Linked DNA regions of Homo sapiens: region 1 is linked to region 2. Evidence: fine-mapped expression QTL. A gene starts in region 2. The other region holds a variant in brackets. All regions are shown on one strand. Distances are from middle to middle. Region 1 overlaps ABHD8 (abhydrolase domain containing 8). Region 2 holds the start of PLVAP (plasmalemma vesicle associated protein).

Region 1 (4,385 bases), 78 kb after region 2:
CAGTGCACGGTGGCTCACACCTATAATCCCAGCACTTTGGGAGGCCGAAGCAGGAGGAAAATTTGAGGTCAGGAGTTCAAGACCAGCCTGGCCAACATGGTGAAACCCCATCTCTACAAAAAATACAAAAATTAGCTAGACATGGTGGCACCTGCCTATAATCCCAGCTACTCAGGAGGCTGAGGCAAGAGAATCGCTTGAACCCAGGAGGGGGAGGTTGCAGTAAGCCGAAATCCGGCCACTGCCCTCCAGCCTGGATGACAAAGCGAGACTGTCTCAAAAACACACACACACACACACACACACACACACACAAACAAAAAAATCTCAGTGCCGTGGCTCACTTGATCTGGCGCTCCCCAAACTGGAGTCTAAAACAGTTCTCCCAAGGCTCAGGGAGTGCCTGCTGCACGGTGCAGGGTTCTCATTGAGACAGCACCTGAACTGGCTGCTGTCCTCACTCACAGGACACACCATGCTGACCGGGGTGACCGACGGTATCTTCTGTTGCCTGCTGGGCACGCCCCCCAACGCCGTGGGGCCACTGGAGAGCGTCGAGTCCAGCGATGGCTACACCTTTGTAGAGGTCAAGCCCGGCCGCGTGCTGCGGGTGAAGCATGCAGGACCCGCCCCAGCCGCTGCCCCACCTCCACCATCATCCGCATCCTCGGATGCAGCCCAGGGGGACCTCTCCGGCTTGGTCCGCTGTCAGCGCCGGATCACCGTGTACCGCAATGGGCGGTTGCTGGTGGAAAACCTGGGCCGAGCCCCTCGAGCCGACCTCCTACACGGGCAGAATGGCTCTGGGGAGCCGCCGGCCGCCCTGGAGGTGGAGCTGGCAGATCCGGCGGGCAGCGATGGCCGCTTGGCCCCCGGCAGCGCAGGCAGCGGCAGCGGCAGTGGCAGTGGTGGGCGGCGGCGGCGAGCCAGGCGCCCCAAGAGGACCATCCATATTGACTGTGAGAAGCGCATCACTAGCTGCAAAGGCGCCCAGGCCGACGTGGTGCTCTTTTTCATCCATGGTGTCGGCGGTTCCCTGGCCATCTGGAAGGAGCAGCTGGACTTCTTTGTGCGCCTAGGCTATGAGGTGGTGGCTCCTGACCTGGCCGGCCACGGGGCCAGCTCTGCGCCCCAGGTGGCCGCAGCCTACACCTTCTATGCGCTGGCTGAGGACATGCGAGCAATCTTCAAGCGCTATGCCAAGAAGCGAAATGTGCTCATTGGCCATTCCTACGGGTAAGTGAACCCTGGCATGTGGGGTGGGGGTGAGGGATGGGGTCAGCAGGGACTACAGTCACAAAATACTGAGTTTTTGGCTGAGCCCCGTGGCTCACGCCTGTAATCCCAGCACTTTGGGAGGCCGAGGCAGGCGGATCACCTGAGGTTGGGAGTTCGGGAACAGTCTGGCCAAGGTGGTGAAACCCCGTCTCTACCAAAAATACAAAAATTAGCCAGACGTGGTGGCACGCGCCTGTAGTCCCAGCTACTCGGGAGGCTGAGGCAGAGGAATCACTTGAACCGAGGAGGTGGAGGTTGCAGTGAGCCGAGATTGTGTCACTGCACTCCAGCCTGGGCGACAGAGGGAGACTCTGAGATGCCACTGACACCTGTAATCCCAGTGCTTTCGGGGGCCAAGGCGGGAGGATATCTTGAGGCAAGGAGTTTGAGACCAGCCTGGGCAACATAGGGAGAACCCCCTAGCTCTACAAAAAGTACAAACATTAGCTAGGTGAGGAGGTGCACGCATATAGTTCCACCTACTTAAGGGCTGAGGCAGGAGATTGCTTGAGTCTGGGAGGTCGAGGCTGCAGTGAACTGTGATCACACCACTGCACTCCAGCCTGGGCAGCATGGCAAGAACCTGTCGCTCTTTAAAAAAGAAAAAAAAATCCGGGCGCGGTGGCTCACGCCTGTAATCCCAGCACTTTGGGAGGCTGAGGCGGGCGGATCACGAGGTCAGAAGATTGAGACCATCCTGGCTAACACGGTGAAACCCTGTCTCTACTAAAAATACAAAAAATTAGCTGGGTGTGGTGGTGGGCACCTATAGTCCCAGCTACTCGGGAGGCTGAGGCAGGAGAATGGCATGA[G/A]CACGGGAGACGGAGCTTGCAGTGAGCCAAGATCATATTGTGCCACTGCACTCCAGCCTGGGCGACAGAAGGAGACTCCGTCATGAAAAAAAAAAAAGGGGCCACCACGCGCGGTGGTGCACATTTGTAATCCCAGCACTTTGTGGATGGATCATTGGAGATGAGTTTGGACAACATGGCAAAACCTTATCTCCTAAAACAAAACAAAGCAAACAAAAATCCTAATTTTTCTCCTTGAAAAAAATCCCATTTTTCAATTTAATTTTTACATTTTTAAAATTTTTTTTTCTTTTAAATAGAGATGGCATCTCACTATGTTGCCCAAGATGTTCTTTAACTACTGGGCTCAAGTGATCCTTGCACCTCAGCCTCCCAAAGTGCTAGGACTACAGGTGTGAGTCATTGTGCTCAGCCTTAATTTTTTTTTTTTTTTTTTTTTTTGAGATGGAGTCTCACTCTGTCCCCCAGGCTGGAGTGCAGTGGCGTGATCCTGGCTCACTGCAAGCTCCACCTCCCAGGTTCATGCCATTCTCCTGCCTCAGCCTCCCTAGTAGCTGGGACTACAGGCACCCGCTACCATGCCTGGCTAATTTTTTGTCTTTTTAGTACAGACGGGGTTTCACCGTGTTAGCCAGGATGGTCTCGATCTCCTGACCTCGTGATTCGCCCTCCTCGGCCTCCCAAAGCGCTGGGATTACAGGCGTGAGCCAACGCACCAGGCCAATTTTCAAGTTCAAAAAAAAATTATATAGAGAATGGGGGGGGGGTCTCATTATGTTGCCCAGGCTGGTCTTGAACTCCTGGGCTCAAGCCATCCTCCCTCCTTGGCCTCCCGATGTGGTGGGGTAACAGGCATGAGCCGCTATACCAGGCTGAAAACTCCCATTAGCATATGTAATCAGACAGGGATTTCCGTCATCACTGATATTGTTTCACATTGTTCTAAAGCAGTGTTGCTCAGGCCAGGTGCAGTGGCTTACGCCTGTAATCCTAGCACTTTAGGAAGCCAAAGCAGGCAGATCACTTGAGGTCAGGAGTTCAACACCAGTTTGGCCAACATGGTGAAACCCCATCTCTACTAAAAGTACAAAAAATTAACCAGGCATGATGGTGTGTGCCTGTAATCCCAGCTACTCGGGGGTGTGAGGCAGGAGAATCACTTGAACCTGGGAGGCAGAGGTTGCAGTGAGCCAAGATCACACCACTGCACTCCAGCCTGAGCAACAGAGTGAGACTCTGCCCAAAAAAAAAAAAAAAAAAAAAAAAGCAGTGTTGTTCAATCCCAGCACTATCGTGTTTGGCCAGGTTATTTTTTTTCTGTGAGGGGCTATAGGATGTTTAGTAGCATCCCTGGCTTCTGCCCACTGGATGCAACTACACAATCTAGTGTTGATCATGACAGTCAAAAATGTCTTCAGTAGTTGCCAAGCGTGCCCTGGTGGGCAGAATTACCCCCAGCTGAGAACCACTGCCTTAGACTAAGTTAAAAAATCAACTGCCCTGGAGAACACTGTGCATTCAGGAAGCGCTCATCGGAATCCTGTAAATTCTAGGCATTTACAAAGGCATGGGTTACTGTAATTCACTCCTGCTTAAAGGGCAGGTAATACAACCTAAAACTTACCAAGAACCCCTCCATGGAAGGCTTGGTCCCCAGGGCTTGACCACTACCAAGTGGCCTCATTCTCTCCTTTATCCAGGAAGAAAGGCAAGATTGAACAGCCAGGCAAGTTGAGCACCACTGTTTTAGAGATTCTAGCCTATGCAATTAGACAAGAAAAAAAGGCCAGGCGTGGTGGCTCACACCTGTAATCCCAGCAATTTGGGAGGCCGAGGCGGGCGGATCAGGAGGTCAGGAGATCAAGACCATCCTGGCTAACACGGTGAAACCCCGTCTCTACTAAAAAATACAAAAAAAAATTAGCCAGGCATGGTGGCAGGCGCCTGTAGTCCCAGCTACTCAGGAGGCTGAGGCAGGAGAATGGCGTGCACCCAGGAGGTGGAGCTTGCAGTGAGCCGAGATTGTGCCACTGCACTCCAGCCTGGGTGACAGAGTGAGACTCCATCTCAAAAAAAAAAAAAAAGAAAAAAGAAAAATAAATAAGTGGCCAGGTGTGGTGGCTTACACCTATAATCCCAACACTTTGGGAAGCTGAGGTGGGAGGACTGCTATAGCTGAGGAGTTCAAGACCAACCTGGGCAACATAAGCAAGATCTCATCTCTACAAAAAACTAAAAAGTAAAAAAAAAAAAAAAAGAAAAGAAAACAAAGAAGTTACATAAGTATCTAAAAGA
Region 2 (4,385 bases):
TCACTCAGACTACATTGCCCCCATTACGGAGGATGTTCTCCTCCTGCCCAGCTCTGGGGGGCTCTGGGTGGGTCTGGCCAACCCAGAGAAATGGCTGGTTGGGCACCCGTGGCAGCCCCCAGCCCTCCTTCCCCCACTAGCAGCCGCCGACGACGCCGCTGGGAAGGGTCCGGAATCAGGATCAGGAACCACCGGGTAGCTGCAAAGGTCAAAGGTCAGACATGGGTTTCCTGCCCACCCCTGGGAACTTCCTTCTTCTCAACTCTACACTCGCCTCACTGAGCACCACCCTGGAGTACCCCTCCGCTCTGTCAACGACCCCTCCCCACTCTGTTACCCTGGCTAATGGGGGGACGGGTCCCCACGCCCCAGCCTTCACATTGCCCTACAGAGGACAGCAATTGCATGATTGTCACCTGTCCGGAGTCCAGCCTCCTTTCCGGCTCCCTGCTCCTGTTCCTCCAGCCCACCCTGACTCCACAGGGTGGGGGGTACCTGTCCCAGTCTGTCTCCCAAGACTGGGAGTTGCTTGTGGCTGAGGTTGGGACTGACACCTCTTGGGGGGCCCTGGCATCACCCAGCATGGAGCAAACAAAGAAGGGACTCCAGGGAGGGTTTCCCTGGAGCTCCTGATCCTGGGAGATAGGCAGGACACACAGAATCCTTTGCTTCCGGGTCCCCAAATCCCCTCCAGGCCCAACTGGGGGGTGACCCACAGCGACCCCAGAAAACTCCCGTGGTTTTTTTGGTTTGTTTGTTTTTGTTTTTGAGACAGAGTTTCTCTCTTATCTCCCAGGATGGAGTGCAGTGGCCCGATCTCGCTTCACTGCAACCTCCGCCTCCCGGGTTCAAGTGGTTCTCCTGCCTCAGCTTCCCAAGCAGCTGGGATTACAGGTGCTCGCCACCACACACGGCTAATTTTTGTATTTTTAGTGGAGATGGGGTTTCACCATATTGGCCAGGCTGGTCTCGCACTCCTGACCTCAGGTGATCCGCCTGCCTCAGCCTCACAAAGTGCTGAGATTACAGGTGTGAGCCACTATGCCCGGCCGCCCATGGGGTTTTGAGTGTCGGGGGAGGAATCTCAGTCCCACGTATCCACCACTTGTCATTCACCATCTCACGGAGCCCCCAGCAGTGCCTCCAGCAGGAAATGATCCTAATCATAACAACAGCCACAGAGTGACGAGGCACTGGGTATACCCCGTCTCACAAAGGGGAAAAGGGAGGCACAGACATGCGAGGCCTCTTGCCCGAGCTCTCCCGGGACAAAGCCAGCTCTTCCCCGCTCCAAGTTCATTATTCCTTGTGCTGCAGTTTCCTGGAGCATTTACTGAGCATCTAAGTGAACAGGGCACTGGGGGCAATGACAGAGCTTGGGGAGCCAGCGCCACCGCCATCCATGGCTCAGCCCTCCGTGACGCCCTCCTATGCAATTACTAATCACCTACTGCTTCTCCATCCCTAGGCTAGCTAAGAGTTTCACACTTTTTCTGTTTTTTTTTTTTTTTGAAACAGAGTCTTGCTCTATACCCCAGGCTGGAGTGCAATGGCACGATCTCTGCTCACCGCAACCTCCGACTCCTGGGTTCAAGCGATTCTCCTGCCTCAGCCTCCTGGGTAGCTGGAATTACAGGCGAGCACCACCACACCTGGCTAAGTTTTGTATTTTTAGTAGAGACGGGGGGTTTCACCACGGTGACCGGGTTGGTCTCAAACTTCTGACCTCAGGTGATCCGTCCGCCTCAGCCTCCCAAAGTGCTGGGATTATAGGCGTGAGCCACCGTGCCTGGCACATTTCCCACGTTTTGTGGCACTTAATCAGCACCGCCCTGGTGAAGTGGGTGCACGTCTGTAGCCAGCCTGTCTTGAGGTAAGTCAAGTTCGCTGAACTAACAGCGTGAGACCCCGAGGCAACCCCTTCTCCTCCCTGTGCCTCAGTTTCCTCCGCCACACAAGGGAGACAGCAACAGACCTGGCATGATTCAGCGACCTAATCACAGCAGGTACTGAGAACAGCACCCGCCAGCAAGTAAAGGCGAACGCGAGGCTCGAAGAGGCCAGGAATGCCTGACCAGCCAGCCAGCGCCCCACCCAGCATTAATCAGAGGGGTCCAGCCGGTGCCCTGGCTCTGGGCCCCCAGCCCCACCCCCGCCTTCTCACAGCCAGAGTGGGAGTGTTGTGATAACCCGCAGCCCCCGTTTCCTCCGGGCCAGGAAGGAGCCAGGCAGAGGAAGTATTAAGAGGAGTAATATAAGCACTCCCCCCTGCGAGGCGGGGGCCAGAGCAGGCCTGGTGGTGAGCAGGGACGGTGCACCGGACGGCGGGATCGAGCAAATGGGTCTGGCCATGGAGCACGGAGGGTCCTACGCTCGGGCGGGGGGCAGCTCTCGGGGCTGCTGGTATTACCTGCGCTACTTCTTCCTCTTCGTCTCCCTCATCCAATTCCTCATCATCCTGGGGCTCGTGCTCTTCATGGTCTATGGCAACGTGCACGTGAGCACAGAGTCCAACCTGCAGGCCACCGAGCGCCGAGCCGAGGGCCTATACAGTCAGCTCCTAGGGCTCACGGCCTCCCAGTCCAACTTGACCAAGGAGCTCAACTTCACCACCCGCGCCAAGGATGCCATCATGCAGATGTGGCTGAATGCTCGCCGCGACCTGGACCGCATCAATGCCAGCTTCCGCCAGTGCCAGGGTGACCGGGTAAGGCTGTGGGCAGGACACTCGCCCTGGGGACCCTGAGCAAGCCCCCTCACCTCTCTGAGCCTGAGTTTCCTCATCCAAGAGAGGGGGACGATCACAGGACCAATGCTCTCTTTTCTTATGAGACAGAGTCTCGCTCCGTCTCCCAGGCTGGAGTGCAGTGGTGCAATCTCGGCTCACTGCAACCTCTGCCTCCTGGGTTGGAGTGATTCTCCTGCCTCAGCCTCCCGAGTAGCTGGGATTACAGGCATGTGCCATCATAACCGGCTCATTTTTGTATTTTTAGTAGAGATGGGGTTTCACCATGTTGGCCAGGCTGGTCTCAAACTCCTGACCTCAAGTGATACGCCTGCCTTGGCCTCCCAAATTGTTGGGATTACAAGCGTGAGCCACTGCACCCGGCCGATAGATTTTTTTTTTTTCCTTAAGAGACAGGGTCTCCATGTGTATCCTGGGCTGGATGGAGTGCAATTGCTATCACAGCTCACTGCAACCTCAATCTCCTGGACTCAAGTGATCCTCTTGCCTCAGCCTCCTGAGTAGCTGGGACTACAGGCGTGCACCACCACACCCAGCTAATATGTTTATATTTAGCAGAGATGAGGTCTCACTATGTTGCCCAGGCTAGTCTCGAACTCCTGGGCTCAAGCAATCCTCTCACCCCAGCCTCCCAAACTGCTGGGATTACAGGTGTGGGGCACTGCGTCCAGCTAAATTTTTTTTATTTCTTTTCTTTTTTTTGGAGGCAGGGTCTCACTCTGTCACCCAGGCTGGAGCACAGTGATGTGAGCATAGCTCACTGAAGCCTTGACATCCTGGGCTCCAGCAATCCTCCTGCCTCAGCCTTTTGAGTAGCTGGCACTATGGACATGCCACTATGCCCAGGTCATTTTTTATTTTTAGTAGACGTGGGGTCTCGCTATGTTGATCAGGCTGGTCTTGAACTCCTGGGCTCAAACAATCCTCCCTCCTGGACCTCCCAAAGTGCTGAGATTACAGGTGGGCACCACCACACCTGGCAATTTTTTTTTTTTTTTTTGAGACGGAGTCTCGCTCTGTCACCCAGGCTGAAGTGCAGTGGCACAATCTCGCCTCACTGCAACCTCCACCTCCCAGGTTCAAGTGATTCTCCTGCCTCAGCCTCCTGAGTAGCTGGGATTACAGGCGTGTGCAACCATGCCAGCTAATTTTTGTATTTTTAGTAGAGACGGGGTTTCACCATGTTTGCCAGGCTGGTCTCAAACTCCTGACCTCAAGTGAGCCACCCACCTCGGCCTCCCATAGTGCTGGGATTACAGGCATGAGCCACCGTGCCCTGACCTGGTGCCCTGGCTAACTTTTTTTTAGAGACAGAATCTCACTATGCTGCTGAGGCTGGTCTTGAACTCCTAGGCTCACCCTCCTAAAGTGCTGAGATTACAGGCATGAGCCACCATTCCCAGCCAGCAACATTTTTTTTAAACTGTAAGTATATTCCATGCAATATTTGAGATATAATTTTGAAAATAATATTCATTGTCTTTTTGGAATCCAAGTTTAATTCTCCTCCTGTGTGTTAATTGGCAGTCCTGAGCCCATAACTTACTATGCATGAAGCTCCCAGAATGTGCCAGCACTAATCAAAGGGGTCCAGCACACACAAGCTGCAAATAAGTGGCTGAAGACCGGCTACAGTAGC

The links. PIP is the estimated chance that this variant, and not a neighbour inherited with it, causes the effect.
Region 1: its variant is the best candidate, but not a certain one, in a credible set for the expression of PLVAP in whole blood (INTERVAL, PIP 0.63).

What each region holds. Positions count from the first base shown.
Region 1 is chr19:17,297,707-17,302,091 of GRCh38, reverse strand. It overlaps ABHD8 (abhydrolase domain containing 8), which reads left to right. Exons shown (of 5, transcript NM_024527.5): 2 at 468-1,236. The coding sequence starts at 476. It also overlaps a transcript of MRPL34 not described here. Among named protein-coding and RNA genes, the nearest start is that of ABHD8, 3.5 kb to the left of the region's middle. RefSeq lists enhancers at 130-630, 631-1,131. The variant G/A (reference allele first, on the strand shown) is at 2,091.
Region 2 is chr19:17,375,242-17,379,626 of GRCh38, reverse strand. It overlaps PLVAP (plasmalemma vesicle associated protein), which reads left to right and starts at 2,285. Exons shown (of 6, transcript NM_031310.3): 1 at 2,285-2,707. The coding sequence starts at 2,339. LOC105372298 (a long non-coding RNA gene) reads left to right here. Exons shown (of 3, transcript XR_936362.3): 2 at 141-214; 3 at 797-837. RefSeq lists an enhancer at 1-467.